Homo sapiens: one gene and its partners. The protein of the gene in region 1 purifies or fractionates together with the protein of each later gene. This does not show direct contact. Each region holds a gene or a part of one and is shown in the gene's direction. Other genes may lie near its edges. The genes, in order: PAK5, SUPT5H, METAP1D and GMPPA.

Region 1 (7,303 bases):
GAGAAAAGAGCTATTTTTAAAAGCAAATTAATAAAAGAATCAGAATATATTCTGCATCCTGCAAGGTAGCCCTTTGCAGTTTGTTACAAATATGTCAAAACTTTCTTATTTGCTTATGGTTTAAATACAATTTTCTTCTCCATTTTCATAGCATTAAACCGGATGATTTTCTCATCTGCCCTGATAGACAGTTAACTACTAAAGTTTACAGAGTAAAAATGAAAGCACTAAACTTTAGAATGTTAAAATATTCATTTATGTCTGATGGGTGGAACCTTCACTGAAGTTGTCCATAAAAGGCAAAGACTGTTAGCAAAAACTCGGTAACCCAGCAGTTTAGCCTATAAATCTATATTGTAAATGTTGAGAGGTTACAAGTGCCATAGTCACTTGTGAATGAGTATGAGGTTCTGTGGACACACTTGACATTTCAGAATGTTCTCCTTGCCTGAGATAACCAGTAGGGTGTGCCTAACAGGTGGACATCTGGTCCCTCGGGATCATGGTGATAGAAATGATTGATGGCGAGCCCCCCTACTTCAATGAGCCTCCCCTCCAGGCGATGCGGAGGATCCGGGACAGTTTACCTCCAAGAGTGAAGGACCTACACAAGGTGAGAAACAGCAGCTGTTGCTAAAGTTCAGAATAGTTTTTGGATTTTCCTGTATCTCTCTGGTTTTTAAGACTGGCTTACCACATCCAGCAGGAAGATCCTGGTTTATGAGCATGGACTTTGGAAATAGTCACTTAGGTTTGAATCTCTGTTCTTCTATTCGTTTACTGGGCAAGTGACTCAGCCTTTCCTATGCCAAAGTTCTTCATCTGTAAAATGGGTTATGATTGGCCTGTATCCCAAAGGGTTGGTTAGAAGAGTAAATCAGGTGCTCTATGCCATACTCATTCATTCAGCATCTATTACATGCTGGGGACATCTAATAGCTTGGGATGTCACCGTGCATGACCCCAGCTTTTCTGACTCTGGGGTCTAGACTCTGCATTCTAGTTGGGGAAACAGATAGTAAACCATAAACAAACAAATAAATAAAATAATTTCAGAGTGTGGTACATACTATGAAAGAAAAACATACTGTGATGTGACAGAGTGTGCAGGAGAAGGGATTGAAAGCTGGTTGTATGAGTCTGTTTTTACACTACTATAAAGAAATACCCAAGACTGAGTAATTTACAAATAAAGAAGGTTTAATTAACTCACAGTTCCACATGCCTGGAGAGGCCTCAGGATACTTACAATCATGGCAGAAGGCGAAGGGGAAGCAAGGCATGTCTTACATGGTGGCAGGAGAGAGAGAGCGCACAGGGGAAATGCCAGACACTTATAAAACTATCAGCTCTCATGATAATTCCCTCACTATCTTGAGAATAACATGGGGTAAACTGCCCCCATGACCCAATTACCTTCCACCAAGTCCCTCCCTTGACATGTGAGGATTACAATATGAGGTGAGATTTGAGTGGGCACAGAGAGCCAAACCCTATCACTGATTTAAGCTGAAGAGTGAAGGAAGCCCTTTCTAGGGAGGGATCAAACGAGCTGGGACCTGAATAGGAAGAAGGTACCAGCCATGCAAAGATCTTGGAGAAAAAGGTCCCAGGCACGGGGAGCATCAAGTGGAAAGGCCTTAAGCCAAGAAAGAAGGCTTACATTGCTGGAGTAAAGTCAGAAAGGGGAAAAAGGTAGGTCTTGTCAGAGAGATGGGCAGGAGCTAGATTGTACAGGGCAATGAAGGTCATGGTTAATATAATGCATGTAAGAGACCGAGTGGGGTCTTTTCTGTTTTCCAAGGATTGCCAATTAGGACGAGCTCAGAAAATAATGATGCTTCATCCAAGAATCACCACTGTAGGAGCTGCCAGATTTCCAAAGGACTTGCTCAGAGGATCATTTCTGCAGGACTACTACTATAAACACTGGCCCCATACACACCTCTCTTCCTATCTTATGACAATAAAAGAGAGTGTGTGGCTGCCTTTTGGAGGAGAATTATTTGTAATGGTAATATCTCCTCCTTCCTCACCCCTAAATCTTAGGGAACAGCCCCAGTAGCATCACTCATATAGGTTGTGTGGACCTACAAAAACATAAACAAAAAAAGAGAGATTGAAATTTTTACTGGATTGGACTAAGTCTAAATAATGAAAAGTGGCTGGGTGTGGTGGCTCACGCCTGTAATCCCAGCACTCTGGAAGGCCGAGGTGGGCGGATCACGAGGTCAGGAGATGGAGACCATCCTGGCTAACACGGTGAAACCCCATCTCCACTAAAAATACAAAAAATTAGCCAAGCATGGTGGCGGGTGCCTGTAGTCCCAGCTACTCAGGAGGCTGAGGCAGGAGAATGGCGTGAACCTGGGAGGCAGAGCTTGCAGTGAGCCCAGATCGCACCACTGCACTCCAGCCTAGGTGACACAGCGAGACTACGTCTCCAAAAAAAAAAAAAAAAGTGACTAAAAATGTATCATATGAAAGTAGTCTCACACCCAGTGAGTGCCAATGTTCTTCAAAACCATGTACAAGAACAACTTTAATCCTAATGGTTTCAAAAAAACTGGAAACCAGTCCGAGGTTGTTTCCCAAATGGATAATGTGTGGTATAATTGGACAGTGAATACTACACAGTAATTTAAAAGATATAACTTTTGCCACACGTCGGAGATGAATCTCACAGATACAACACTGAGTGAAAGAAGCCAGATAGAGAAGAAATCAAATATATGACTCCATTTTGGTAAAGTACAAAAGTAAGCAAAACTAAGTTATGCTATAAATTAAAATAGTGGTGACCTTTTGCAGGGAGATAGGGGTTGGCAGGAAGGAAACCTAAAAGTAGCTTCCTAGAGTGGTAGAAAAGTTCTATATCTTGATAGGAGTGGAAAGTAAATAGGGGTAAATGTATGTAAAAATCCATTGAGCCACACTCTTAGTATTTGTGCAGCGGAACCTGGGCATGCTGGCACATGCTTGTACTCCCAGCTACTCAGGAGGCTGAGGTGGGAGGATCATTTGAGCACAGGAGTTTGAGCCTGGGCAACATAGTGAGACCTCATCTCTAAATATATACATAAAGTAAGATATACCTTTAAAAGGAAAATTACAAGACCTTCAAAGAAAAAAATGAGATGTGTTCGATATCCTTACAGAAGCTTGTTTCTCTTAAAGAAAGGGGTTCCACAGAGCCTGTGTGGTTGCAGTTGTTAGAAAAATAAAACGGCTCCCTGTTTATACTATGCTTCATCAAGCACGTGTGACCAGCACCTGCACATACTAAATATTTTGTAATAGCTGCTCTTATCACTGTGATTGCCACTGTTATTTTATGTAGTAAATAAGTTTTCATTCTTAGTTGAGCTGTCATTTACACCTATTATTTCACACTTGAAAAAGGTAAGGAAAACACGAAATGTTAACAAAGACAAGACATGCTTTTGCTTTCACAACATCTTTCTCCTTAAGGTAACTTTCTGGAATTTGAAGTTGTTGATAGGATGAATGGGGAAAACATTTTGGGGACTGGGTTAGGTGTCTGTGTTAGTCCTCAGATTGGTATCTGTGTGTTTTCACAGGTTTCTTCAGTGCTCCGGGGATTCCTAGACTTGATGTTGGTGAGGGAGCCCTCTCAGAGAGCAACAGCCCAGGAACTCCTCGGACATCCATTCTTAAAACTAGCAGGTCCACCGTCTTGCATCGTCCCCCTCATGAGACAATACAGGCATCACTGAGCAGAGGATTCGTGTAGGTGGCAAAGCTAGATGAGGACATGAGAATAATTCAGGAGAACAAAAGGAAACACAGAACATGCAAAAGGCCTGTGCATTCTAGACCAGCCAATTGGTGGGACAGCGTGATGACCGGCAGGGTTCAACAGACCAGGGCATCTTCTTGTGTCTTAAACAGGCATCTCTCCACTGACAGCCGGTGTGGTCACTTGGAGCACGGCTTTAATAAGTCATTATTATATTTTTCAGCCCTTCATCCAGCAAATCAGAAGGACTCAGTACAAACTCCGTTATGATATATCCTAGCCACATGCAGGGTAACATGTAGGATTTTCTATATTGAAAGAATACTTTTCTGGCAAAAAAAAAAAAAAAAGAAAGAAAGGAAAACAAAAAGCACTTTTTTCTTAATGGTAGCAGTATAATGTATTTTGCAACGAATTTGTAATTTTTCTGTACGATAGTTTTGATAATTTATAGTACTTTGATGTCATGTAGCCATTGTATCAGTTGAAGTAATACTTGTTTACTAGAGGAGTTTGAACAAAGCCTTTCCTACTTTTTTATCCCTTTAAGAGAACCAATGATTCTTTAGGAACTTTGAATACTGAATGACTCTCAATCACCGTCAGCTTTAGTAAAATCTCTTTCTTATCCTAACAAGTGTCTTATTTGGTGGAAGAAGAATTAAGAGTGATGGTGATGGTGTGCACGTTTCATTAATCCAACCAAAAATAATGAAATAAAATTTGAGCCACAGTATACCACTCCTTGGGATAAAGTTAAATATTTTTAAAGATCACATTTTCCATGAACGCCTCTAGTAGCAAACCATTCTTTTGCACACCACAATGTTTCCCTCAGTGCCCTTTCTCAAATGGGTACAATGTTCCCTTGTGGCCAAATTTCCCTCCCAGGGAGCAATTTCAGTGCTAGGATCATTGGATTCAGTTCCCAAAATAGAATGTTTCAGTGAGACCATGAGAATTCCAGGCTCACAAAGGGAGAGGAGAGAACAGGGCAAGACGTTTGGTTTCATTTGTCACCATTTTTAAAACTCTGTATGCTAGCACACCAAACTCTTGTCTATATTTACCTTTGTACCACAGTATTAATCGCTATTGTTCATGTATCGTGCTGGAAGTCTGAACTGACTCTAGAGGATGAATTAGCAAGAGGGTATTTTACCAGGTATGATCTGACTTCAGTTGTGCCCATGTTATAATGTGTTTCCGACATAGGAGAGTCGTGCTGCTGTCTAGATCTTCTTGAATGTTGATAAAAATGAATGACTACTACAATACATTTTGTGTTGCTTGTTGGATGAATTTGCATGTTAACTGTAGGCCAATATAGATTTGCCTTTAAAACTCTGGAAGAGCTACATAGTCATCATTAGTTTCTATTAATTATGCATCAGACAAAAGCCATTTGTTACCAAACTGGGAAAACAGAGGCTTTTCTTAACTATTTCACATACTGTAACAAATATGAATTTAAATTTGTGATAGCGCTCTGGTTGCTCTAAGCATAATTAAGAATTTTTGTAATTAATAGGTTGCTAATTATTTATCACTGCTAAAAAGGAAAAAAGGCATAAAATGACCTTCTACTGATTAGATTTTCAGTTTTCTTTCAAACTGGAAATGCCTCCATAAATATGATCTATGATTTTGCTTCATAAAACAGCAAATCAATGTTTTATGTAAAATATTAAAGCATTAATATAAATATGTGAGAATAAAAACAATCTAAATCCAGAAAATGGCAGTCCTAAATGTTCATGAGACAGATTGTATTAATTTAACCAGGACTATGTAGAAGTAGAAAGAAAAGAAAAAGAAAATCTTTTTTAAACCAGAATAAACATTAAAAACTATTGCAGAAAATAGTGGATTTTGGATTCCAAACATTTTCGACAGTGTAATGGAAATTTTTCTGTAATTTTCTTACCATCGGGTATTTTTTAAAGTATTCATTGAGTTTACCAAAAGTTACTGTAGCTTAAAAGGTTTTGTGAGCACTAACTATTGGCAGAAACTGCATTTGCAAATAAAAATAAATGTTTGCCTTTTCCCCATTGTGTTATTGGAAACAGTGATTTCTCAAATTTATTTTATTGAGTAACCAAGAATGATTTCTTTGTGATCTTGGGGAGTGCAAATGAGTTGGTACAAAGTTGTATGTAACATTGTGATGACATGACGTAAAGACAAATATATCCATCCCTAGGGATTGTAAAGAGTGTAAGATGGTGATGTCGATACCACTACTGAAAAAAAAATTACTAAATTCTGGAAGGCCACGTTCAAGGAAAGCCAGGTTCAGGGCTGAAGACTCTCATTCTACTTCCCTGTTCCAAAGATGCAAAACTGATCTGAGGGCTTTTTTAAAAATTAATTAATTAATTAATTATTATACCTTAAGTTCTGGGTTACATGTGCAGAACATGCAGTTTTGTTACATAGGTGTACACCTCTCGTGGTAGTTTGCTGCACCCATCAACCCATCACCTACATTAGATATTTCTCCTAATGTTATCTCTCCCCTAACCACCCACACCCTCACAGGCCCCAGTGTGTGACGTTCCCTTCCCTATGTCCATGTGTTCTCATTGTTCAACTCCCACTTATTAGTGAAAACATACGGTGTTTGGTTTTCTGTTCTTATGATAGTTTGCTGAGAATGATGGTTTCCAGCTTCATCCGTGTCCCTGCAAAGACATGAACTCATCTTTTTTTATGGCTGCATAGTATTCCATGGTGTATATGTGCCACATTTTCTTTATCCAGTCTATTATTGATGGACATTTGGGTTGGTTCTAAGTCTTTGCTATTGTGAATAGTGCCACAATAAACATACGTGTGCATGTGTATTTATAATAGAACCTGGATTCAAGAGGTCGTGTTGAGAGCTCTCTGGGAGCCTAGAAGATAATTTGGGCTCTCTCCTCCACTTTGGGAGACAAGGGGGACATTAACATTGATCTCGTGAAGCTGGAGGATGGGGGAACTTTTATATACACAGCCTATTTTCCATCCAGAAATGTTGGAAGGTAAAAACCCTCAGGAAGTAGCCTGAGCTAGCAGGATGAAAAAAAGGCATTGTATATCACATGTCAGGGCAGACAAAGGTGGAGGCAACCTCCCCTGGACAGGTCTCCTCTGCCTTTACTGGGCATGGAAGAAGACATGGAGTTCCCTTGAGTATGTTTGATGGGACATGGAGAGGACAGCAGGGAATGTGTCAAACCACTTAACTAAGTAACAGGATGTCCAACTTGCAGAGTGCTTTGGAGGGGTGCACCATGGGGGCAACTGAAGGGAAATATGGCTGCTTTTCTGCATGGAGACAGGGTCAAGGTGGAGCTGACCCTTACTCTAAAAACCACATATGTCATCTACACAAAGACCACTCCGAACAGCAGAAGCTGTAGTTTTCAGTGGAACCAAAATGAGACTCAGGCCTCTCCCTTTCCTCCAATAGCATCTCCAAGGCAGCTGACTACAGCCAGCTAGGTTACTGGAACCTCCGCTCCCCACTAGTCCACATAGAATAGGGCCATGTGT
Region 2 (9,096 bases), on another chromosome or scaffold:
CCAGGCTAGAATGTAATGGTGCAGTCTTGGCCCACTGCAACCACTGCCTCCCAGGCTCAACTGATTCTCCTGTCTCAATCTCCCAAGTAGCTGGGATTACAGGCACCCGACACCACGCCTGGCTAATTTTTGTGTTTTTAGTAGAGATAGGGTTTCAGCATGTTGGCCAGGCTGGTCTCGAACTCCTGACCTCAGGTGATCGGCCCACCTCGGCCTCCCAAAGTGTTGGGATTACAGGCGTGAGCCACTGTGCCCAGCCTTAATTTTCTTTTTTTTTTTTTTTTTTGAGACAGAGTCTCGCACCGTTGCCCAGGCTGGAGTGCAATGATGCGATCTCGGCTCACCGCAACCTGCACCTCCCGGGTTCAAGCGATTCTCCTGCCTCAGCCTCCCAAGTAGCTGGGATTACAGGCACCCACCACCATGCCCAGCTAATTTTTTTTTTTTTTTTTTTTTTGGTATTTTTAGTAGAGATGGGGTTTCACCATGTTGGCCAGGCTGACCTTGAACTCCTGACCTCAGATGATCCACCCCTCAGCCTCCCAAAGTGCTGGGATTACAGGCATGAACCCACTGCGCCTGGCCAACCGGCCTTAATTTTTGTATTTTTAGTAGAGGCAAGGTTTCACCATGTTGGCCAGGCTGGTATTGAACTCCCGACCTCAAGTGATCCTCCTGCCTCGGCCTCCCAAAGTGCTGGGATTACAGGCATGAGCCACCGCTCCTGGCCTTTTTTTTCTTTTAGTTGGTATTTACAGCTATACATTTACTTCTAAGCATGGCTTTTTTCAAATCTCATAAGTTTTGGTATCTAGGAGTGTGTTGCCATGTATTTGTGAATTTCCTAAGTATCTTTCTGTTGGTTTTTAACTTCATTACATATGGATGGAGAATATACTTTATATGATTTTAGTTCTTTTATGTTTACTGAGACGTGTTTTATGGCCTAACCTGTGGTTTATTCTGGAAAGTTTAATATGCCCTTGAGAAGAAAGTGCATTCTGCTGTTGTTAGATGGAGTGTTCTTTTTTCCCATTTCCGCTTAATAAGTGGAAAGTGAAGACGAAATGTTCTGTCTATAGCTGGCTATTAGGTTTAGGTGGCTTACAGTGTTGCTCAAGTGTTCTCTTTCCTTGTTGATCTTGGGTCTAGCTCTATCCATGATTGAAAGCAGGGTATTGCAGTCAGTGATTGTTACTGTTGAGTTGTCAGTTTCTTCCTTCATTTTCATTAGTTTCTGCTTCATGTATTTTGAGGCTCTGTTAGTTTCATATACATTTGTAATTCTATCTTCCTGATGGATTGACCTTTTTATTGTTACAAAATGTTTTTTGTTGTCTCTGGTAGCAATTTTTGTCTTAAAGTATATTTTGTCTGATGTAAGCACTCCTTTCTTGGTTCTTCTTCTAGTTGCTTTTTTTTTTTTTTTGAGACGGAGTTTTGCTCTTATTGCCCAGACTGGAGTGCAATGGTGCGATCTCAGCTTACCGCAACCTCCACCTCCCGGGTTCAAGCGACTCTTCTGCCTCAGCCTCCCGTGTAGCTGGGATGACAGGCATGTGCCACCACACCCGGCTAATCTTGGATATTTTTAGTAGAGACAGGGTTTCTCCGTGTTGGTCAGGCTGGTCTTGAACTCTTGACCCCAAGTGATCCACCCGCCTCGGCCTCCCAAAGTGCTGGGATTACAAGCATGAGCCACCGTGCCCGGCTCTAGTTGCTTTTTTACACAGAACATATGTTGGATAGCTTTCTATATTAGTACATACAGGTTAATCTAATTTTTATTTTATTTTTTATTTTTAAGAGACAGGGTTTCACTCTGTTGCCCAGGCTGGAGTGCAGTGGTGCGATCTCAGCTCACTGCAGCCTCAACCTCCCGGGCTCAAGCAGTCCTCCCTGCTCAGCCTCCTGAGTAGCTGGGACTACAGGCATGTGCCATCACACCCAGCTAGTTTTTGTATTCTTTAACTGCAACATTGTATTTCATGGTACATTAAGCCATAAGTTAACTAGTTACTGTTTCTGGATATTTTTAAAATTTTTAGTCTGGTTTGTTTGCTGTGATAAATAATTCTGCAGGGAACACCTTTGTGTCCATGTCATTGTGCCAGTGTGTTTCTGTGGAATAAATTCCTAGAAGAGGGACTGCTGATGAGTGGCAGTCATTTCTGTTATTAGCCGTTGTGTCTCACTGTTTCCTCCTTCCACCGGCTCACCCTGCAGCCCCTGCAGATCAAGTCAGTAGTGGCACCAGAGCATGTGAAGGGCTACATCTACGTGGAGGCCTACAAGCAGACCCACGTGAAGCAGGCCATTGAGGGGGTGGGCAACCTGCGGCTTGGCTACTGGAACCAGCAGATGGTGCCCATCAAGGAGATGACAGACGTGCTCAAAGTGGTGAAGGAGGTGGCCAACCTGAAACCAAAGTCCTGGGTCCGCCTCAAGCGGGGCATCTACAAGGATGACATTGCTCAGGTGCCCGGGGCGGGGTGGCATGGGGGTCAGGGTCCCTCCATTCTGTTCTCCCTTCCTTTCCTTTTGTCCTTCCCACCCTCTTTGTGCTGCAGAGAATAGAATCCCACTCAGATGAGTTGAAGCAGAGCCTGGGTTTTGTGAGCACACAGGAAACGGTTGGCTGTCTTCTGTGCACATTCCCAGGCGTGTTGAGTAAAGGTCTGAAGGATCGGAGGGCGTGAGGCATGTGGAGCTCTTGGGGAGGAGTGTTGTAGGCAGCAGGAGTGGCCTGTGAGATAGGATGGCACAGTCACTGGCTACAGCAGGGATGGCGTGAGATGAGTTAGGGAGCTCACGAGGGCCTGCGGCCCATTGGAGAGCTTTGGTGTTTACTGGCGTAGGATGGGAGGGCTGTAAGGGACACAGGCAGACTTCAATGTTAATAAGATTTCTCTGGTGACTGTGTTGAGACTAGACCACTGGTTCTCAAGCCAGGGTGATGTTTCCCCAGGGGACATTTGGTAACGTCTGGAGACATTTTTGGTTATGTCAGCTGGGGAGGGGGTTGACGATTATGGCATCTAGCAGGTTAAAGCCAGAAATGCTAGACACACACATCCTCCAATGCACAGGATGGCTGCCCACAACAAAAAATTACCTGGCCCAAAAAGTCAATAGTGCCAAGGCTGAGAAACCCGGGAATAGCCTGGAGGGGGCCATGGGCAAGAGCGTGGAGACCAGGGAGGAGGCTGCTGCTGTAGCACATCCCACCCAGATGGCAGTGCTGGTGGGATAGGACCAAGACCCTAATACACGTTGAGTGTCTCTAACCTGAATTCTTGAGACCACAGGTGTTTTTCAGATTTCAGATTTTTTCAGCTTTTGGAATATTTGCATTATACTTACCGGTTGAGCATCCCAAATCTGAAAATCCAAGAGTGAGCATTTCCTTCGAGCATCATGTTGGTGCTCACAGGGTTTCCTATTTTTGAGCATTTTGGGTTTTTGGATTTGGAATGCTGAGACTGCAGTGGAGGAGGGGAAGAGGTCAGGTATTTTGAAGGCAGAGCTGATGGAATTTGCCAACGGGTCGGGTGTGGGTGTAAGAGAAACAAAGGAGTCAAGAGTGGCTCCCAGGTTGTGTGCCTGAGCAGAGGGAAGAATGGAGTGGGAGGCGGCAGGTTTGGGGGAATCAGCGGTTTGGCTGCGGTCGTCCTGGATTTGAGGGACCTTTAGACATCCAGGTGGAGATACCAAGCAGGCAGTGGCTACTCAGTGCCAGAGTTGAGGGGACAGACAAGCTAGCGTGGGACTTTTGGGAGTGGTCAGCAGCCTGGTTTCTTCCCCACCATCCTGCGTCCCTTCTCCTTCCTAGCATCTCCTGACCCTTCTTGTGTCTGGGGTCAGGGAGGAGAGTGGGGCCCTGCTGACCTTCTGCTCGCCCTGCTCAGGTGGACTACGTGGAGCCCAGCCAGAACACCATCTCCCTGAAGATGATCCCACGCATCGACTACGATCGCATCAAGGCCCGCATGAGCTTGGTACTCAGGGGAATCTGTGGCCTGGGGGGGAGGGAGTGTGCTCGATCCCACTGGTGGCCAAGCCCCCTCCCTCACCCTTCCCACCCATGCCCCTTTCCTCCATAGAAAGACTGGTTTGCCAAAAGGAAGAAGTTTAAGCGGCCTCCACAGAGGCTGTTTGATGCTGAGAAGATCAGGTGCGTGTCCTTGGGGACTGGCTGGGCTGGGTCCCCAGGGCCGGTGTGTAGAATGTGCCTTTTGCAGGTTCCTCCCCAGGGGTGGCCCCGCCACAGGTTTAGCCTGTGAATTGGTTAGCTTGGCAGTATAGCCTCAGGCAAGTCACTTCACATCCCTGTGCCTCAGTTTCTTCTGCTATAAAGATTGATGAGGCTGGGCGCAGCGGGAGGGAGCACTTTGGAAGGCTAAGGCAGGAGGCTTGCTTGAGGCAAGGAGTTCGAGACCAGCCTGGGCAACATAATGAGATCCCATCTTTTAAAATAATAATAATAATAAAAAGAAAAAAGTTAAAAAAATATTTAAAAAGATTGATGAGGCTGGGCGTGATGGCTCACACCTATAATCCCAGCGCTTTGGGAGGCCGAGGCGGGCGGATCACTTGAGGTCAGGAGTTCAAGACCAGCCTGGCCAACATGGTGAAACCTTGTCTCTACTAAAAATACAAAAATTAGCCAAGGGTTGTGGTCAGCTCCTGTAATCCAAGCTACTTGGGAGGCTGAGGCAGGAGAATCGCTTAAACCCACGAGGCAGAAATTGCAGTGAGCCGAGATCGTGCCACTGCACTCCAGCCTGGGTGACAGAGCGAGACTCCGTCTCAAAAAAAAAGAAAACAACCTCTGCTTCCTCAGATTATAGATTATAGTGAGAATTAAATAAATTAGTATGCATATGTACTCAGAATGCCCTTGGCACGTAGTAAGTGTGATCCATGGTGTGATATATTGAAATGGGATTCATGGACTATGTCAGGCTTTAGAAAGTCTCCTTTCCTGATCTGCTTATGCCCACTTGAGATGGGGGGGTATGGAGTGCCTTTCCCTCAGGATGCCCCCCAGACTCCCTAGCTGGGTAGAGAATTGGAGCAGCCCAGGAATTTCAACATCCCAGGGCCAACTGGGGGCTCCGGCAGGGAGGGCAGGAGAGGAGGACATGGAGAAACGAGAGGTGCCAGTGACACTCTTCCCTCTGGTCCTGTTCTAGAACTAATTGTGTGTGATTCAGCCAGTCAGGTTTTCCTTCAGATAAAGGAAGAGCTGTGGAATGCACCTTTGAGTCTGCACCCAAGGGCCTTGCTAATACTTCACCTGCCTGAGTTCGGACCCATTTATACCACTGGTTTCGACTCACCTGAACCTCTCTTTGCAAAGAACAAACCCTAGTGCTCCCTTACCCCCCAGCAAGCCAGCTGACCAAGTACCCCAGCATGCCCAGCAGAGCATGCTGGCCCCTCTCCCAGATTCACCATGGGAGAAGGCGATTGCATGAGCGCAGGAGGAACTTGACCTGCTCCTCCATGAAGGAGGCTCCTTCCCCACCCCGGAGACTCGGAACAGGCACTAAGCGGCCGCCACTCCACATTTGGGGCCGGGAGCTGCAGGCTTGGGAGTCCCACCTGCCTGCTTTTGAATCCTGTCAAGACTGTGGCTTGGCACCCTTGGGCATGTGATGTGACCTTCCTGAGCCTGCATTCCCTCACCTGGAAATGATGAGCAGTTACTGATGCCACAGATTTGGGGAAGAGCCTGTGAGGTCATGAGTGTGCAGGCCAGGCTGAGCGCTCTGCGAATATTCACTGGTATCATTGTCTGAAACTGTTATTTTGTTCAGCTAATGTTTACTGCATACTTTCTGTGTACTGGGCACTATTCTTGGTGAAATTTAGTGAATGTTACATCCCTGACCTTCTGGAGCTGACATGCTAGTTAGGGGGACAGGTCAAACACTAGATTGTCAGATGGTGATCGGTGCTCAAAGATAAATCAGGGAATGGGTGGAGGAGTGCAGGGAGGTGGGAGGCGGGCCTTTGGGGTTTGTGAGAAGTCACTGCTGCCAAGAGGGTGTGTGCTGGGATGGGATGGGTCAGTCTGCCTGTGGTCCTCTCCTTCTGTTGCCAGCTGAGAAGACTGAGGTACAGCAAGATTTTCTTCTTGACTCTCCCTTCTAATCTTCTCTCCCCCATCAAATTCCAGGTCCCTGGGGGGTGATGTTGCCTCTGATGGTGACTTCCTCATCTTTGAGGGGAACCGTTACAGCCGGAAGGGCTTTCTGTTCAAGAGCTTCGCCATGTCTGCTGTGGTGAGGGTCCCAGAGGGGTGTTGGTAATGGGGGTGGTGTGAGTGTTCTCCTGCAGGTGATGCCCTGGGCTGTGGGTTATCTGGTTCTGTCCCACTCCTCAAGTTAGGAGTGTTCCCTAGGAGAATTATTCCCCTAGGACCCACTCAGCCCACTCAGCTGGGCTGTTGCACTGACCTCGGTCCATTTCCTTCTCTTCCCCTCACCGCTGGGGGCTTAGATCACGGAGGGTGTGAAGCCAACACTCTCTGAGCTGGAAAAGTTTGAGGACCAGCCAGAGGGCATTGACCTGGAGGTGGTGACTGAGAGCACAGGTATTTGATCCCCCTCTATAACCTGGGCCAAGGAGCAGGGGCGGCCCATGGTGGCAACCCCCGAGTCAGCCCTACGACTGCCCCTGCAGGGAAGGAGCGGGAGCACAACTTCCAACCTGGGGACAACGTGGAGGTCTGTGAGGGTGAGCTCATCAACCTGCAGGGCAAGATCCTCAGCGTGGATGGCAACAAGATCACCATCATGCCCAAGCATGAGGACCTCAAGGTGGGTGCCCGGTGTTCTCGGGCAGGGGTTGGAGTGTTCAGGCACATCTGACTGTATGTGGCTGTCGAGGCGGTGGTGTGCCTGGTGACACCTGGTTTCCAGGAGGGTAAGTTGAGGCCCTTCTAGCATTCTCAGGTGCCTGAGAGGCTCTGTCTGAGTGCAGCTCAGGGTCGGTGGGCAGCAGGCCTGCCTGGTGGTGTCTGTCTCTGGAGAGTGACTTGGTCTATCTTTTGTTTCTGAAAAGCAAGATATCTGGGTAGTACTGGGTTGAGAGTGTGATTAACCAAGGAGTAATCTGAGGCTTGACTTTGTTTGCTTAGAGCGGGGTGTGTGTTTGTCTGTGTCTGGTGTATGTCTGAGGGGTTGTGCAGGCCCAGTGTGATGTGTGGGGTGAGGCTGTCTCCGGGTGGGGCTGAGGAGCTGTCCAGTCGGGGGTCCTGTGTCTGAGGGGCAGGCTCTCTGTGTGGGTATAGGTAGGCATCGTGTGTCTTGAGGGCGGGCTGGGGTAAAGGTTGTCCAGGTTGGTGTCCTGTGTCTGGGGTCAGCTGTTTCTGGGGCAGTCTGAGGGGTCGTCCAGGTGGACTAAGGTAGTCTGGGGTGGGTGGTAAGAGCCTGAAGTGGGGTTTTTGAGAACATGCGTAGATTCTGAAGACAGGAGGGGCAGGCAGGTTGTGGTGGTCTCCCTTCACCTGTTTGTTGTCCCCACACCCAATCCCCCAGGACATGTTGGAGTTCCCAGCCCAGGAACTTAGAAAATACTTCAAGATGGGGGACCACGTGAAGGTGATTGCTGGCCGATTCGAGGGCGACACAGGCCTCATTGTGCGGGTGGAGGAGAATTTCGTTATCCTGTTCTCTGACCTCACCATGCATGAGGTAGGTGGATAGAAGGGTCGGGGAAGGGTGCACGTGCCAAGAGGAGACCCAGGTAGGCGAGCCACCTGGACTGGGCCTCACCCCTTTCACCATCCCTGGCAGCTGAAGGTGCTCCCCCGGGACCTGCAGCTCTGCTCAGAGACAGCATCAGGTGTGGATGTTGGGGGCCAGCATGAATGGGGCGAGCTGGTGCAGCTGGATCCCCAGACTGTGGGTGTCATCGTGCGACTAGAACGGGAGACCTTCCAGGTGTGTGTGTTGTGCTCTGTGGCGGGGACTTGCTTTTAGGAGGCTTCCTGTCCCTCAACCCCTCATCCTGGGAGGTGGCAGAGCCCCCAGACTGCTCTGGGTTGCAGATCTGGCTCTGTCACTTACATCTGAATGGCTGATAGTGGGCACATGGCAAGTCATTGATCCCTCCCCTTGCCTGTTTTCACACCCTATAAAATGGAAACGAGAGCAGCGTCTACTTTGTTCATAGTGAATGATTCCCTGAGGTTAGATCTGTACCCTGGTGGCTGTTGCTCGCTCAAGGATGGAGTGCCACATGTGCCCTCCTGCCTTTGCTCCTTCCTCATGGATGTGGGAGTCATGGAGCACAGTACTTAGGATCCTGGACTCCACATCCACATCTTGGCTTTGTTGCTCCTGTGCTGTCTGACCCTGGGCTAGTGACTCACCCTCTCTGAGCCTGAGTTTCCCTCTGTAAGATGGAAATCATGACAGAATCCACCTCAGAGGAAGTTTTGAGGCTTCAGTGAAATCTTACGGGGCCTGACACAGAATGATGGATGAACAATGTTGCTATCAGCCCCTTCTTCCATCTCTCAGGTCCCTGTTGCCCAATCGGGGGTGGAGTCTCCTTCCAAAGGGTGTTTTAGAATGACTGGGAACATTTTTGGTTGACCCAGTACCTAAAGGGTGGCACTCTGCCTGCCTGCCCCGCAGCCAGGGAATTGAGATGCCTTGTGGAGCTTGGGACTGTCTCCCACAAGGAAGGATTATCCCACTTTAGGGAACCCCTGCCCCGTGTCTCCCCTTCCCATTCTCACCCCCACAGCCTCCCTGCTCTCCCTCTGTAGGTGCTGAACATGTACGGGAAGGTGGTGACTGTCAGACATCAGGCTGTGACCCGGAAGAAGGACAACCGCTTTGCTGTGGCCTTGGACTCAGAGCAGAACAACATCCATGTGAAAGACATCGTTAAGGTCATTGATGGCCCCCACTCAGTGAGTACAAGTTCCTGCTTTTGAGCTGCATCTGAAAGAATTTGGTTGGTTGGGGGTGAGGGGGACATGGTCAAGAGAGTGACCCTTCTCTCCCCGGCTAGGGCCGAGAAGGGGAGATTCGCCATCTCTTCCGAAGCTTCGCCTTCCTACATTGCAAGAAACTG
Region 3 (5,074 bases), on another chromosome or scaffold:
GGTAGGAGGCAGCTCAGTGGAGCACCCTCAAGGCAGGTCCACACCTGGACGGGGATCAAAGGAAAGTTGGTCCTGGGGCCTTGACCTGTGCCCCTATGGACTTGATTGGTCCATAGAAGGACTACTCTTTCGGACCCATGCCCTCGAGGATCGCTGGACACCCAGCAGGTCCAAACCCTCTTTGGACCAAAGAGCCCCCACCTAGGCAGCTCAAGAGGTTCAGGTGAGAGTGCAGAAACGGCTTGTCAGCCTTGTGCCCTACCTGGTGCCAATGTCTGGAGTGAAGCTATTTGAAGTCAGGCCCCTGCTCCCCACAACCTGCACCAAAGGAGGCTTCCCTCCTTTGCATCCTTCCCCAGGACTTCTTTGAGTGAGGGGTGTGGGCAAGGCCCAGGACCCAGTAGTAGGCTGGGAGACCTAGTAGCCTGGGGGACAGGGAGAGGGGGCGAGGAAGCCTGACGTGTCTGAAACAACCAGGCTGCCCCTGCCAGGCCTTGGAAAACTCTTCTGGGGGAGTCTTGACCCAGAGCACAGATAATGCAAAGACTCAGGCCCAGTAGCCCCGTGTTTAACTCCTGGTCACTATCCAGGACTCCAGAAATCTCCACCCTTCCTTCTCTAAAAGAAGAGAAATAAAACGACCAAGTTTTTTAAAGGGGCCTGACCCCTGTAATCTGTTTTTTTTTTCTGTCCTCCCCATTTCCTATTCTCACCCCCCATGTTTTTTGTTTTGCAGCAAACGACAGTGATCTACCCATGGAGGAGGGCATGGCATTCACTATAGGTAAATTGAGCTCCTCTTCCGAGTGAGTGCGTAGCTCCTGGTGGAAGCTTTTGCCACTGGCCTAGGCCCGGCAGTCCGGTGAAGGACCAATAAAGCCAATCAGTGTAATGAAATAATTCGGATGCACTGGAAATCTGATTAAATAATATCCTCAAGCCCCATCTTCCTAAATCAGATACTTACCGACACATTTAGGAGAAGGCAGCCATCCAACCTCTAATTCTGTTACCAGCATAATGTGGTGTTGGGTTTTTTGTTTTGTTTTGTTTTTTCATTAACACCCAGTAACTAGACACGATTATGTCCCTTGCTCCCTGTCAGCAAGTGGCATGTGCTCTCTGGTGGCCCGTTCCTGGCTGATCCTGTGATTGGTATCACCACCAAATTCCAGTCACCTAGGGCCGTAAAGACATCCTGTTTCTGACTGTGGGACTTAATGGAGAAGCAATTAGAGTGAAATAAGAAAATTGTTATTTGCTGATGAATGAACATCTCGAGCATGTTTTTAAAATTTAAATATTTTTTTAAAAATTGGTATTTATAAGAGGGACTGGTGTTTGGGTGGTTATTATCCACGGGGTCCTAATTAAAGCTTGATTAAAATGCCCTTCTTTCTCTAAAAAATTACGAACTAGGCAACTTCATACATTTTGAATGGCGCAGTGTTTCCTCTTCCAACTGTTTAGTTTGTAGTATACTATGTAAGCAACATCAATTATCAACCCTTGCAAGATGACAACATGAGCCTGTGGGGGAAGCACTTGAGGGGAGGGAGGAGAAACTTCTCTTTTTTAATAATCAGCCGGAAACAATGTTTAACAAGAATCTGATGAGGTCACTGCAGTAAATATTTTTCCTCTTACAGAGCCAATCATCACGGAGGGATCCCCTGAATTTAAAGTCCTGGAGGATGCATGGACTGTGGTCTCCCTAGACAATCAAAGGTGTTTGCTTTCTGCTCTGTTGCTTTTAAATTGTATGGGAAAGGAAGATTGGTCCGACGGCGCGCTTGTGGCCCGGCCGGAGCTTGCGTGCGCGTTCTGACGGCTGGGTGCTGTGTTACAGGTCGGCGCAGTTCGAGCACACGGTTCTGATCACGTCGAGGGGCGCGCAGATCCTGACCAAACTACCCCATGAGGCCTGAGGAGCCGCCCGAAGGTCGCGGTGACCTGGTGCCTTTTTAAATAAATTGCTGAAATTTGGCTGGAGAACTTTTAGAAGAAACAGGGAAATGACCGGTGGTGCGGTAACCTGCGTGGCTCCTGATAGCGTTTGGAAGAACGCGGGGGAGACTGAAGAGCAACTGGGAACTCGGATCTGAAGCCCTGCTGGGGTCGCGCGGCTTTGGAAAAACAAATCCTGGCCCTGGACTCGGTTTCCCAGCGCGGTCAACGCATCTGGAGGGGACTGGAGGAAACCCCCTTGTTGGAAGAGATTCCAAGAGAAGCACGGTTTTCTCTTTCCCTTGCCCTGACTGTTGGAGTAAAAAACCTCTTAAATCCATTGTATCAGAGGTCCTTACCTCTCTGACAGTTACAGTGATCTTTGTATCTGAACTTTGCACGTCTGCCGAAAAATCCGAACCTGTTGACTGGGATTTTTAAGAATCCGTTTCTCCCTTTTGTGTATTCCATATTGGCCGGCCCCAAGGATGCTCGCAGAAGCCAGCCCCCAACCCCAGCCCTTCCGTATCTTTCCCCTCCATCGCGGCTTTGCGATGAAAGATTAGCCCGCGAACAGAGGCATTGATTACAAACATGTCCTTGGCAGTGGACTCTGGGCCTGGCCATTCTTCAGGTTTCTGTCAATCCAGAAACGCGACTTTCCTGGACCCCTGCGGCTCTTCCTCCCCCGCCCACATCCAGCCCTCCAAGGCCAGTCCAGAGGTGAAGTTTGAGGCCCTCCCCCCACCCACCCCACACGCACGCACGCACGCTAGACCGTTTGCTGCACTAGGAATTCGAGCTTGGGCCCCACTCGCCCAGGTGTGAACAGTGGCTGATTAGTGGGCGGTCTAGTCTCTAAAATGACCCCTCCCCAGACTGGCCCTTCTCGCATCGGGACCCGCGCTTGCACGCTGCAGGAGCCGCAAACGTCAGCTGTTCTGGAAACCGAGAGGGTCCCAGAGAGAGGAGATACGGGCGCATTTGAGAGCAAGGGCCTACTTGGCCGGGACTGAAGCTTGCGAGTTGAGCTCCAGTTCGGCCGGCAGTTCCATCCCGCTTCAGGAACAGGAATCCAAGGGCCCACGCTCTGTCTGCCAAGGGCCATTCCTGCCCGGAGCACCCTCCTTTCCCTTGCGCTTGCTCTCCGGTACCTGTTCCTCACCTGAGCTCAAGGGCAGGGAGAGGCCGGGCCTCTGGCAGTCCACGAAGGAAGCCGTCTGCCTTCGGTTATGATTTTAGGAACAAGTCCAACGAGGGTGTTCAAGCAGTTAATGGTTGTGCTAACTCTTGTTTCTACTGAAGCGGGTTTTGCAAAGCTGACATCCCTTAAAGATAACTTGGGCTTTCGGAAGCGGCAAGGAAATGGCACCTGTAGTTGCCAGGACAGGTGGTGTCCTCGGCCAGGACTAAGAGCCAGCTCATCTTTGTAACATTCATAATACGGGAAACTGAGGACCAGGTGGCTCGGAAAAGAGATGAGTTCCAGCTTTTACCTAACACAGGGTTCTCTCGTCGTCCCCCAACCCCTCCAGCTCGGCTTCTTTGTGTCCAGGGTTGTAGATTTTTGGATAGAGGTGTTTCTGATTCTAGTGAGTCTGAGAACTGGAAAAGACCAAGGAGGGGTTGATGATTTACAAGGTCCATAGAAAAACTTTTTGTGTGGTCGGAAGTTGGCCAAGCAGAGGCCCACAGCCTGATGCTACTGCCCCCCACCCCCCCAAAGATCTGAATTCCCTAAAGATCAAGAGGGTTCAGCTGGCCTTGGGAGATGTTTGCTGGAGAATGACTTCAGTTTTCTCCTAAGGCAATCAGATTGCAACCATTAGCATTGTATCTTATCTGCAAATCAGTTTACTCCGAGGTTCCCCAAGGATAGTTTTATTAGGACCACAGGACTTTACTAACCACTGAGGTAACACGCTGCTTGTGCAGCAATTATTTTGAGGTGGAGGTATTTATGGGACAAGTTTATAATTCCATTTATTAAAGGGACTAACCTAAAGTGTGTGGGTGTATATATATATGTGTGTATGTGTGTACCAACACTCAGCAGCTCCCTAAAGAACTCCCTTTAACATGCTTTGAAGTTGAGATTAGGAAGTAGATTTAAAAATACCTCGTCCACGCCTTCCTGTCCCTCTTCCAGCTGAACTGGCCGAAAACCTCACCCAGAGCCACTGGGATTCCAGCCAAGAGTGGCTGCGGCTAACACCACCAGGACCTCCTGGTCCTGAGGTGACTCCAGTAGGCTCCATGAGGAATCCCGGACCCTCAGGACAAATGGGAGAGTTTTGTTTTCTCTCAGAGTGAGGGCAGGCAACAATTTAAGCAAACCGGCATTCAGAACAGGTGTCACCTTAGCAGTAGGGGGTGGGAGGGATCCACTCCAAGTTCACTGAGTGCAGCTAAGATCCCACATTGAGAAACCAGCTACCGCCAGCGGCTCGGCATCAGAGGGCCCGCGCTCAGTGCTCCTCCCTAGACCTTTCTGAGCTAAGAAATAATTCCGGAGTGTAGCCATCTCTTGCTCACACACAACCCGCTTCTAAATTAAGCAAGGCTCTGAAACAGTATCCCGAGGGGCTCATGCCGGACTTTTGTTCCAAGAAGGCAACCAGGTCCCCTGTGCTACCGCAAAAGTCTTTGATCCTTTTCCAGCTGTGGACACAGAGCACCCAAGAGACTGTCGCGATGTGCGGCCGTCTCTCCCCTTCCCCCACCTTGCAAGTCTCTGGAATACACTGTCCCTAGGCGGCCCGGCCGTCGGGTTTCCTCACGCCTTGCCCTGAGCTCCGGGAATTACCAATTCCGCTTTCCCCGGTCCCAACCCCGACCCCGCGCCCGCCGCGGCGATCACTTACTTGGGCAAGGCCCTCAGGGCACGCGCGAGAGACCTGGGGCCCGGCAGTATCCGAGCGACTGTGCTGGGCACACGGCGTGGCACTCCATACCCTAAAACAGGCACTAGGAAGGAGCAATTAAAACCACAAGTGCGACACAGAAATCAGGACGAGCCGAGCGGCTCCCGGAGTTGCCTGGTGGCGGAATCATTAGCTGGCTGTTGCTACAAAGCCTCACCGTGTGGTTCGGTGATTAAGAAAAAAAAAATCTTTTAAACGTTGGC
Region 4 (7,695 bases), on another chromosome or scaffold:
CAGGCCTCCGACTTCCTCCAAATTCCTCATTGTCCAGAGGAGAAAATAGCCCAGAGTGGTGAGTGCCCTGGGGCCCCACAGCTGAGACTGAAACTGGTTTCTGGACTTTGGGCCAGCACCAAGGATTTCCCCAACATCCCCTCCTATTAGATATTCTTCATCCCAGCCTCTTCCCTTGTCCTCAGGTCCCTGGAATGCAGGAGATTCTGCTCATTGGCTTCTACCAACCTGATGAGCCCCTCACCCAGTTCCTAGAAGCCGCCCAGCAGGAGTTTAACCTTCCAGTCAGGTGTTTGTGCACACACTCGTATATGGGGGGGTGGGGATGCCCTAGGCCTCTGAGTTCTTGGAAGTGGGTTGAGTCAGCATTTGCTGGAGTTCATCCTCGCCTACTAGAAGGATTCTTGTTTGGACATCAATGAATCTCTGAGTATATAGAGTTTCTCTGTGGGCCTTGGGCAGGAGTAGTCCTGGGAGCAAGCGGTGGCGGTCAGGTGCCCTGGCTCATGGTATCTGTTTCCTAAGATCCACTGAGCTGGCTCTCGGGTCCCTGGGGACAGGTACCTGCAGGAATTTGCCCCCCTAGGCACAGGGGGTGGTCTTTACCATTTTCGAGACCAGATCCTGGCTGGGAGCCCCGAGGCATTCTTCGTGCTCAATGCTGATGTCTGCTCCGACTTCCCCTTGAGTGCTATGTTGGAAGCCCACCGACGCCAGCGTCACCCTTTCTTACTCCTTGGCACTACGGTGAGGGGGTCAGGAGGGCTGGAGGGTGTAGAGGAGGTGATCCCAAGAGCTTCCCGGAATTCAGGGTGTTGGGGAGGCAGGGGCGCCCCGGGAGTTGGTGTGGGAGCTGGCGTCAGGAGGGAGATGCGCTGCTCTGGCAGCATGGAGGTGTTAGTGGAGACCCCGAGCCCTCTGGCTGTTCAGAAGTAGGGAGGGGGAGGGCAGCTGTCAGTTTCCACCCTTGCTGAAGGCCTGTCAGTGGCAGAGCTGCATGCCAGGTGCTGTAGCGGAGGGAAAGAAAGAAAAAACAGACGTGGCTGCCCTGGAGCAGGCGGGTCACTGTCTCGGGTGTGTCTGTCTTTCAGGCTAACAGGACGCAATCCCTCAACTACGGCTGCATCGTTGAGAATCCACAGACACACGAGGTGAGAGCAGAGTGGGGGCTGGGTGGGTGCCTACTCTGTGTCATCATCCCCTCTACCTCAGGCCTCTAGAGAATGCTGGCACAGTATGGGGTGGGCTCTAGTCTTGTCAGACAGGTGAGACACTCCCGATTAATCATCTTATATCCCTTTAAGAGAGATTGACCAGGGGGAGGGGGGGAATGGTTAATTTCCCTGGGGGTGGTGCTGTAATAAATGTATGCACAGTGCATGATGGGAACACCAAGGGGGCCCCAACCCAGCCTTGCTGGGGTGGGAGTAGAGAGGGCTTCCTGGAGGAAGCAAGGTCTGAGCAGAGTCCCATTTGTCTAGATGACAAAGGAGACAGGAAGGTACTACAGGCAGAGGGAATGGCAGGTATAAAGGCCTGGAGGCAGGAAGTAACATACCAGAAGCAGGAGCATGATAGGCAGGGCAGCAGGGCTCTGTCCTGTTTTGTGAAACTCCCTTCTCCTAAGCCCCTTGACTTTCACATAACCCTCCCTCCTTTATTTATTTATGTATGTATGTGTTTATTTATTTATTTTGAGACAGAGTCTCACTTTGTCTTCCAGGCTGGAGTGCAGTGGCATGATCTTGGGTCACTGCATCCTCGACCTCCCAGGTTTAAGCCATCCTCCCACTTCAGCCCCTCAAGTAGCTGGGACTATAGGCATGAGCCACCATGCCCAGCTGATTTTTTTTTTTTTTTGAGACAGAGTCTCACTCTGTTGCCCAGGCTGGAGTGCAGTGGTGCGATCTTGGCTCACTGCAGCCTCTGCCTCCTGGGTTCATGCCGTTCTCCTGCCTCAGCCTCCTGAGTAGCTGGGATTACAGGCAGGTGCCAGGCTAATTTTTGTATTTTTAGTAGAGACAGGCTTTCGTCATACTGCCCAGGCTGGTCTCGAACTCCGGAGCTCAAGTGATCCACCTACTTCAGCCTTCCAAAGTGCTAGGATTATAGGCATGAGCCACCACCATACCTGGCGTCACATACTCCTTTTATTTGTTCGTGCTTTAATATAAAACATACATATAAACACGCACACACACATGCATGTACACACCTACACACATATAGTTTTGTGCTCAGCACCAGGTAGCTGTGAGAGAAACAGAGCCAAATGGGTGCAGTCCCTGCCTCTTGGTTACTGTGAGTCTAATAGGAGTGACAGAATCAAAAGGCAACCTTTGCAAATGATACAATGCCATGGGTGAGGCGTGGCCAGAGTTCAGGAGTGCCCAGGCATGAACAGCTAACTCGGGCCAGCAAGAGAGGACGCACAGAGAGAGTGACAGTGTCAACTGGGTTTGGAAAGGTGGGCTTTCCAGATGAAGAGATGAGAAAGGCCATTCCAGGCACAGGCATGCAGTCGGGTGGAAATGCGTCTGAGAGGTAGGTGGTGGGGAGGATCAGGCAGGGAAAGCCATGGACTTTGGATTTATCTGAAGCTGAATCAGGTGAAGGGCAGTCATCTCAGGGTTTAAAGCCAGGCAGCAGTAGGATGCGGATGCGCACTGCATTTTAGCCAGGCCACCCTGGCAGCAGGGAGGAGAGGCAAGAAGGGCCTAGAAATCAGAGGGTCTTAGGGGACTGTGGCGGTAGTCCCTTCTTCTACTGAACCCAGCCTGCTCTGTCCTCAGGTATTGCACTATGTGGAGAAACCCAGCACATTTATCAGTGACATCATCAACTGCGGCATCTACCTCTTTTCTCCTGAAGCCTTGAAGCCTCTTCGGGATGTCTTCCAGCGTAATCAGCAGGATGGGCAATTGTGAGGCAGGCCCCATAGCCCTGTGACCCCAAGTACCCCCAGTCACGGACCCCAACACATACCAGTCTCTGCAGGCTCCATCTCAACTTGCTCACCTTCCTCCTCCCCTCTCCCTTCTCCACTTGCCATCTCCAGCAGAGCCTCCTGAGTCCCTCCCCTTCTAACCTCATTCTGTCCCTCTTCCTTATCCATCCCAGTTCCTCCTCTGTCACTGCCTGCCCACTCCCCTTCTGGTCCATTTCTCCTAAGCCCTGAGTGTCCCAGAGACGTCTTTCAGAACAGACAGCAACACACAGTTGGGCGCACACATGCTCGGGTGCAGACGTGTGCACGTGCACACACAGACAGACATGCATACTCTCAGGCTGAGGCTCCCCTTGGAACATAGCACCAGAGCCCTGCTCACCAGTCCCAGGGTCTTCCCTCCTGGGGCTAGAAGCTGTTCCCTTCTAGGGATCCTTGCCTTAACCCCCCACCGCCCCATCTAAGGCCTCCTCTGCTCATAGCCATTTCTCACTCCCACCCGTGTCTCTGCTTCCCTCTCCATCTCTCCTGGCCTCTCTGTCTCTGTCTCTGCTGAGCTGGCATCTCTACCATCTCTCTCTCCCTTTCTTTCTGTGACTGTCTCTGCCCTCACCAGCTGCCTTGCTCTGGGGTGAGTCTGTCTGTGTTTCATTCCATCCAATGAGGGGGAGGGTAACTTGGAGGGGGTAAAGGGCTGAATGGGGATGAGAATGTGAAAATGGGGGGAACTCCTTATGGAAATGGGGCAGGGATGGGAAGCAGGCCTCTGCCTGGGGCTCCCTTGTGATAGCACCCACCCAAGTGGGGGCTGGGTGGGAGAGGTTCCTGGGATGTGAGCAGCCACATCCCAGAGAGGGCCGAACCAGACCTGGAGAGAGGGGCTTAGAGAGGTGGTGGGAATCCTCCTACTCCTGTCCCTGGGAGACTGTGTTAGCCCCACAGTCGGGGCTCAGCTGGGGGACTAATGTCAGCATTCTTCCTCTCTGCCAGGGAGGACTCACCAGGCTTGTGGCCAGGGGCAGGTACCATCCGCCTAGAGCAGGATGTGTTTTCAGCCCTGGCAGGGCAGGGCCAGATATACGTGCATCTCACTGATGGTATCTGGAGTCAGATCAAGTCCGCAGGGTATGGAAGGCTGGGTCCCCTGGGGATTGAAATTTTGGGGTGGTGGGCACAGGCCCTGCTGACCCCTGAGCCCCTGTCCCCCTTGCGGTCCCCAGTTCAGCCCTCTACGCCTCCCGCCTCTACCTGAGCCGATACCAGGACACTCACCCAGAACGGCTGGCCAAGCACACCCCAGGGGGCCCATGGATCCGAGGTACCCAGCCTGCCCCAATTCCTAACCTTTGGCTTCCACCCCAGCCCTCTGAACCAGGATTCTTGACCTCGAGTCCAGAGTTAAAGCCTCAATCCCTGCCCCTTCCTGATCAAATTCGGTTTGGGATATTTGCCCCCAGGGCCTCTCTTCTGCTTCTAGGGAATGTGTACATCCACCCGACCGCCAAGGTGGCCCCCTCGGCTGTGGTGAGCACTGGTCCCAGCCCCAGGGAGGGAAGGGTGGTGGTCGGATGGATGGAGGGTGCCCACGCTGCCTGAGTTCTGGGTGCCGGTTTCTTCACTTTGTCACAGCCTATTGTGTGTCCTCGAGCAGGTCACTTATGCCTTATCTGTTCTAGAAGGGAGTTGGGTTTGGGGATCCTCCAAGTCCCTCCAGGGCTTATGGTGTGTGCTTCTCTCCACAGCTGGGCCCCAACGTCTCCATCGGGAAGGGGGTGACCGTGGGTGAGGGTGTGCGGCTCCGGGAGAGCATCGTCCTCCATGGAGCCACTTTGCAGGTAGGTACCAGCATACACAGCAGCATGTGACACCCCAAGAGGCTGCGGGGAGGGCCCAGGCATCCCCCCAAGAACAGAGAAGGGTGAACGCCGTGGGCTCTGCATCTGGCCACACCTCACACCCTCCGGTTCCTGCTGCCTCCTGCCTCTTCCCCTTACCTTTCACTGTCCTCTTTGGCAGGAGCACACGTGTGTTCTGCATAGCATCGTGGGCTGGGGGAGCACCGTGGGACGCTGGGCCCGCGTGGAGGGTACCCCCAGTGACCCTAACCCCAACGATCCCCGAGCCCGCATGGACAGTGAGAGCCTCTTCAAGGACGGGAAGCTGCTGCCTGCTATCACCATCCTGGGTATGGCTTCCTGGGGGCCAGGGCTGGGGGAACCCCTCAGCTGATGGCCAGTGGCCCCGGGGAGCATTCGTTCCTCTGTGTGCACGCGTGTTTCTTCTTTTAGCAAACAGTTACCAAGGGCCTGCTGTGTGCCAGGCCCTGTGTGAGTCACCGGGGGCATGAGACCAGGGGCACAGATGGGCAGGAGGGCTCCCTCCCTGCTGGCAGTGGCCCCCAGCTCCCTGCCCCTGTCTCCCCTCCCATGACCTCCCCTGGTGCCCTCATCCATGCTGCAGGCTGCCGAGTCCGGATCCCTGCCGAGGTGCTCATCCTGAACTCGATTGTTCTGCCACACAAGGAGCTGAGCCGAAGCTTCACCAACCAGATCATCCTCTGAGTAGGGCTGCCAGAAGGCCCCCAGCTCCTACCCACTCCCCTTGAGGCTGCTGCCTGCTTGGCCAGCCTCTGTCCAGAAAGGACCAGAGAAAGCCAGGCTGGATCGTCACATGCCGGGGAGCAATGTGGATGGCCTGGGGACTCCTGGGTTTTCTCCCTCCCGACTCCCTAATAAACCCCGTGAACCTTGGAGCCAGCACAGACTGTACTTATGTCTGGGCTGGGGGTGGGGGCGGAAGCGGGGCAGCTGAGTCAGGCCCCCCCACATTAGCATTTAAATTGGAGTCGTTGCTGTGGGCTCATGAATAATGAATCTGGAGCCCTGGTAAATCTCCCCCTCCCACTGCCTCAGCCTCGTGCTGCTCGGGAGGAAGGCCCTCTAGGCTCCCCTGCCAGCCTGGTCCCCCCCTTCACCCCTGCCTCCCTGCCTCCCTGTTCCTCCTCACCGGGCCTGGCTCAGGCCCCCATGTGCAAGGATTCCGAAGGGAAGGGTGAAGGATTTTGGTTGGGCAGCAGGCAGAGGAACTGGGGCCACAGGCCTAGAGGCTGATCCCCACAGCCCGCTCTGCTCGGTTCCCGCTGAGCCCAGCCCTGGCCGGTTTTCCGCTTTGCCAGCTCCATCTGCTCCCAGCTTGGCTTTTGGCAGGGTGGGGGTTTTGCCTCTGCCCGAGGCCTCATGTCTCTGTCTTCTACTCCCCTGGCAGGCTGGGTGGGCCTGAGCTGGTGCCATTCTCTTCGGAAGCACAGTGGGAGGTACCCTGTTCTGGGAAGGCCCTCACCACCTCCTGTCCCCCTGGCCCTGCCCTTTGGTAGGTCTCAGCCCTCCTCTCCCAGCCATCTCTCATGTTTGCCCATGACCCCCATGTGCCCCTCTTGGTGCCCCCCTTCCCCAGCTGTGGGTGTGGAGCTGTGTTGCCAGATGAGCTGGTAATGATCGTAATCTGCTAATTGAGAGGAATCTAATTACCCGAAGAGAATGGGGGGTGCAGGGCATGGGTGGGAGAAAGGAGGGGGTCCTGGCAGCAGGCAGGGGTGGCAGGCAGCAGGGTGCTGGGGCCTTGTTATCAGCACCAGGCTCTGGGACAGAGCCCAGGGTTTCATAGCTTCATAGCCTGGCAGTTAGGAAGCTGCGCCTTCTCAGGAGCTGGACTGAGGTTGACTTGGGGATTGGGCCAAATGTGACCTCCCAGGCCCCTCAGGTCCCGTGGGCTGTGTGCCAGCATGTAGGGAACGATCTACACAGTGTGGGGTTTAGCAGTCCTGACCTATAAGCTGTCCCTAGTTCCTCAGTTCCTCCTGTCCTGGCCTCCAGCCCAGACCTTCATTATCTCTCTTCATGGGAGTGGGAGGGGGCTGCAGGTCCCCACTCTGGGCTGGGGTCATCACCCCAAGGAAGGGGCTGGGAGAGGGTGGGCCATAGGACCAGGGGCTAGGTCCCTTCCCTCTCCTCCCCCCTAGTCCTGACCCTTCTGTTCCGAGTGGTTGGCAGAGGCCATGGCAGCTCCATCATAAATATGATAATTTAATTATTTTCTCAGCAAAACACCGTGAAATCCAATAAGTCTGTGTCAGGCCCTGGCCCCCGGGATCCCCCTCCTAGACCCAGTGGGGGTGGGGACATGGTGGGGAGAGGCAGTGGAAGGGGAAAGGGTCAGTGTTTGAAGGGGGGTGCCGCTAGCAAAGCTGAGGTCTTTGTAACATGCCCCCCAGAGGTCTTTGTAACATGCCCCCGAGATTGAAGGAGTCACCATTGTTGGGGGGGGTCTAAGAAGGACATGCCCCCCCCACTCCTCCCCAACCCACTTCTGTGCTGGGAGGGACCTAAAGTCCCATCCATCTCTGAGAGACCCAAGATGGAGCACCTGCCCCTGGACGGGGTGCAGGGGGCCCCTTTGTCCACCGCTGCTGGGACCCTGTGCCCAACCATCATTGGCTGTTTAGGGGTAGGAGGGCGCCAGCCCGGGGAGGGTCTGGGAAGGGAGAAACAAGAGGGAACTGGGGTGGGAAGTGGGGGATGAGCGGGGGAGGGATGCGGGGGAGGGGTGCGCTCCTGCCATTAGTGCTTTTTTCAGTTTCCATAAAAAGATTATTCTGTAAAATCAGCGAGGGGGAGCAAGCTGGGGGCCGGGGAGGGGGGTGGGTCCCTGGCACCAAGCTGGATAGGGCGACAGGGGAGGAGAGCCGGGGA

What was found.
Region 2: the proteins of PAK5 (region 1) and SUPT5H purify together in Homo sapiens (affinity purification with mass spectrometry; 2 studies listed by BioGRID and IntAct, with this or other methods). This does not show direct contact.
Region 3: the proteins of PAK5 (region 1) and METAP1D purify together in Homo sapiens (affinity purification with mass spectrometry; 2 studies listed by BioGRID and IntAct, with this or other methods). This does not show direct contact.
Region 4: the proteins of PAK5 (region 1) and GMPPA purify together in Homo sapiens (affinity purification with mass spectrometry; 2 studies listed by BioGRID and IntAct, with this or other methods). This does not show direct contact.

The regions. Positions count from the first base shown.
Region 1 is NC_000020.11:9,535,896-9,543,198, reverse strand, and holds the end of PAK5 (serine/threonine-protein kinase PAK 5), read left to right. Parts: intron 1-478; coding exon 479-613; intron 614-3,581; coding exon 3,582-3,737; 3' UTR 3,738-5,829; downstream 5,830-7,303.
Region 2 is NC_000019.10:39,462,572-39,471,667, forward strand, and holds part of SUPT5H (transcription elongation factor SPT5), read left to right. Parts: intron 1-2,226; coding exon 2,227-2,478; intron 2,479-3,908; coding exon 3,909-3,998; intron 3,999-4,103; coding exon 4,104-4,174; intron 4,175-5,650; exon of another isoform or gene 5,651-5,722; intron 5,723-6,184; coding exon 6,185-6,290; intron 6,291-6,507; coding exon 6,508-6,601; intron 6,602-6,690; coding exon 6,691-6,827; intron 6,828-7,547; coding exon 7,548-7,703; intron 7,704-7,805; coding exon 7,806-7,952; intron 7,953-8,785; coding exon 8,786-8,932; intron 8,933-9,033; coding exon 9,034-9,096. UniProt on the Homo sapiens protein: Component of the DRB sensitivity-inducing factor complex (DSIF complex), which regulates mRNA processing and transcription elongation by RNA polymerase II.
Region 3 is NC_000002.12:172,078,479-172,083,552, forward strand, and holds the end of METAP1D (methionine aminopeptidase 1D, mitochondrial isoform 1 precursor), read left to right. Parts: intron 1-736; coding exon 737-784; intron 785-1,649; coding exon 1,650-1,728; intron 1,729-1,849; coding exon 1,850-1,928; 3' UTR 1,929-3,952; downstream 3,953-5,074. UniProt on the Homo sapiens protein: Removes the N-terminal methionine from nascent proteins. The N-terminal methionine is often cleaved when the second residue in the primary sequence is small and uncharged (Met-Ala-, Cys, Gly, Pro, Ser, Thr, or Val).
Region 4 is NC_000002.12:219,501,291-219,508,985, forward strand, and holds the end of GMPPA (mannose-1-phosphate guanylyltransferase regulatory subunit alpha), read left to right. Parts: intron 1-185; coding exon 186-289; intron 290-560; coding exon 561-747; intron 748-1,091; coding exon 1,092-1,151; intron 1,152-2,792; coding exon 2,793-2,923; intron 2,924-3,563; coding exon of another isoform or gene 3,564-3,578; intron 3,579-3,937; coding exon 3,938-4,072; intron 4,073-4,167; coding exon 4,168-4,265; coding exon of another isoform or gene 4,266-4,424; coding exon 4,425-4,471; intron 4,472-4,689; coding exon 4,690-4,782; intron 4,783-4,963; coding exon 4,964-5,132; intron 5,133-5,407; coding exon 5,408-5,508; 3' UTR 5,509-5,699; downstream 5,700-7,695. UniProt on the Homo sapiens protein: Regulatory subunit of the GMPPA-GMPPB mannose-1-phosphate guanylyltransferase complex; reduces the catalytic activity of GMPPB when part of the complex. Mediates allosteric feedback inhibition of GMPPB catalytic activity upon binding GDP-alpha-D-mannose.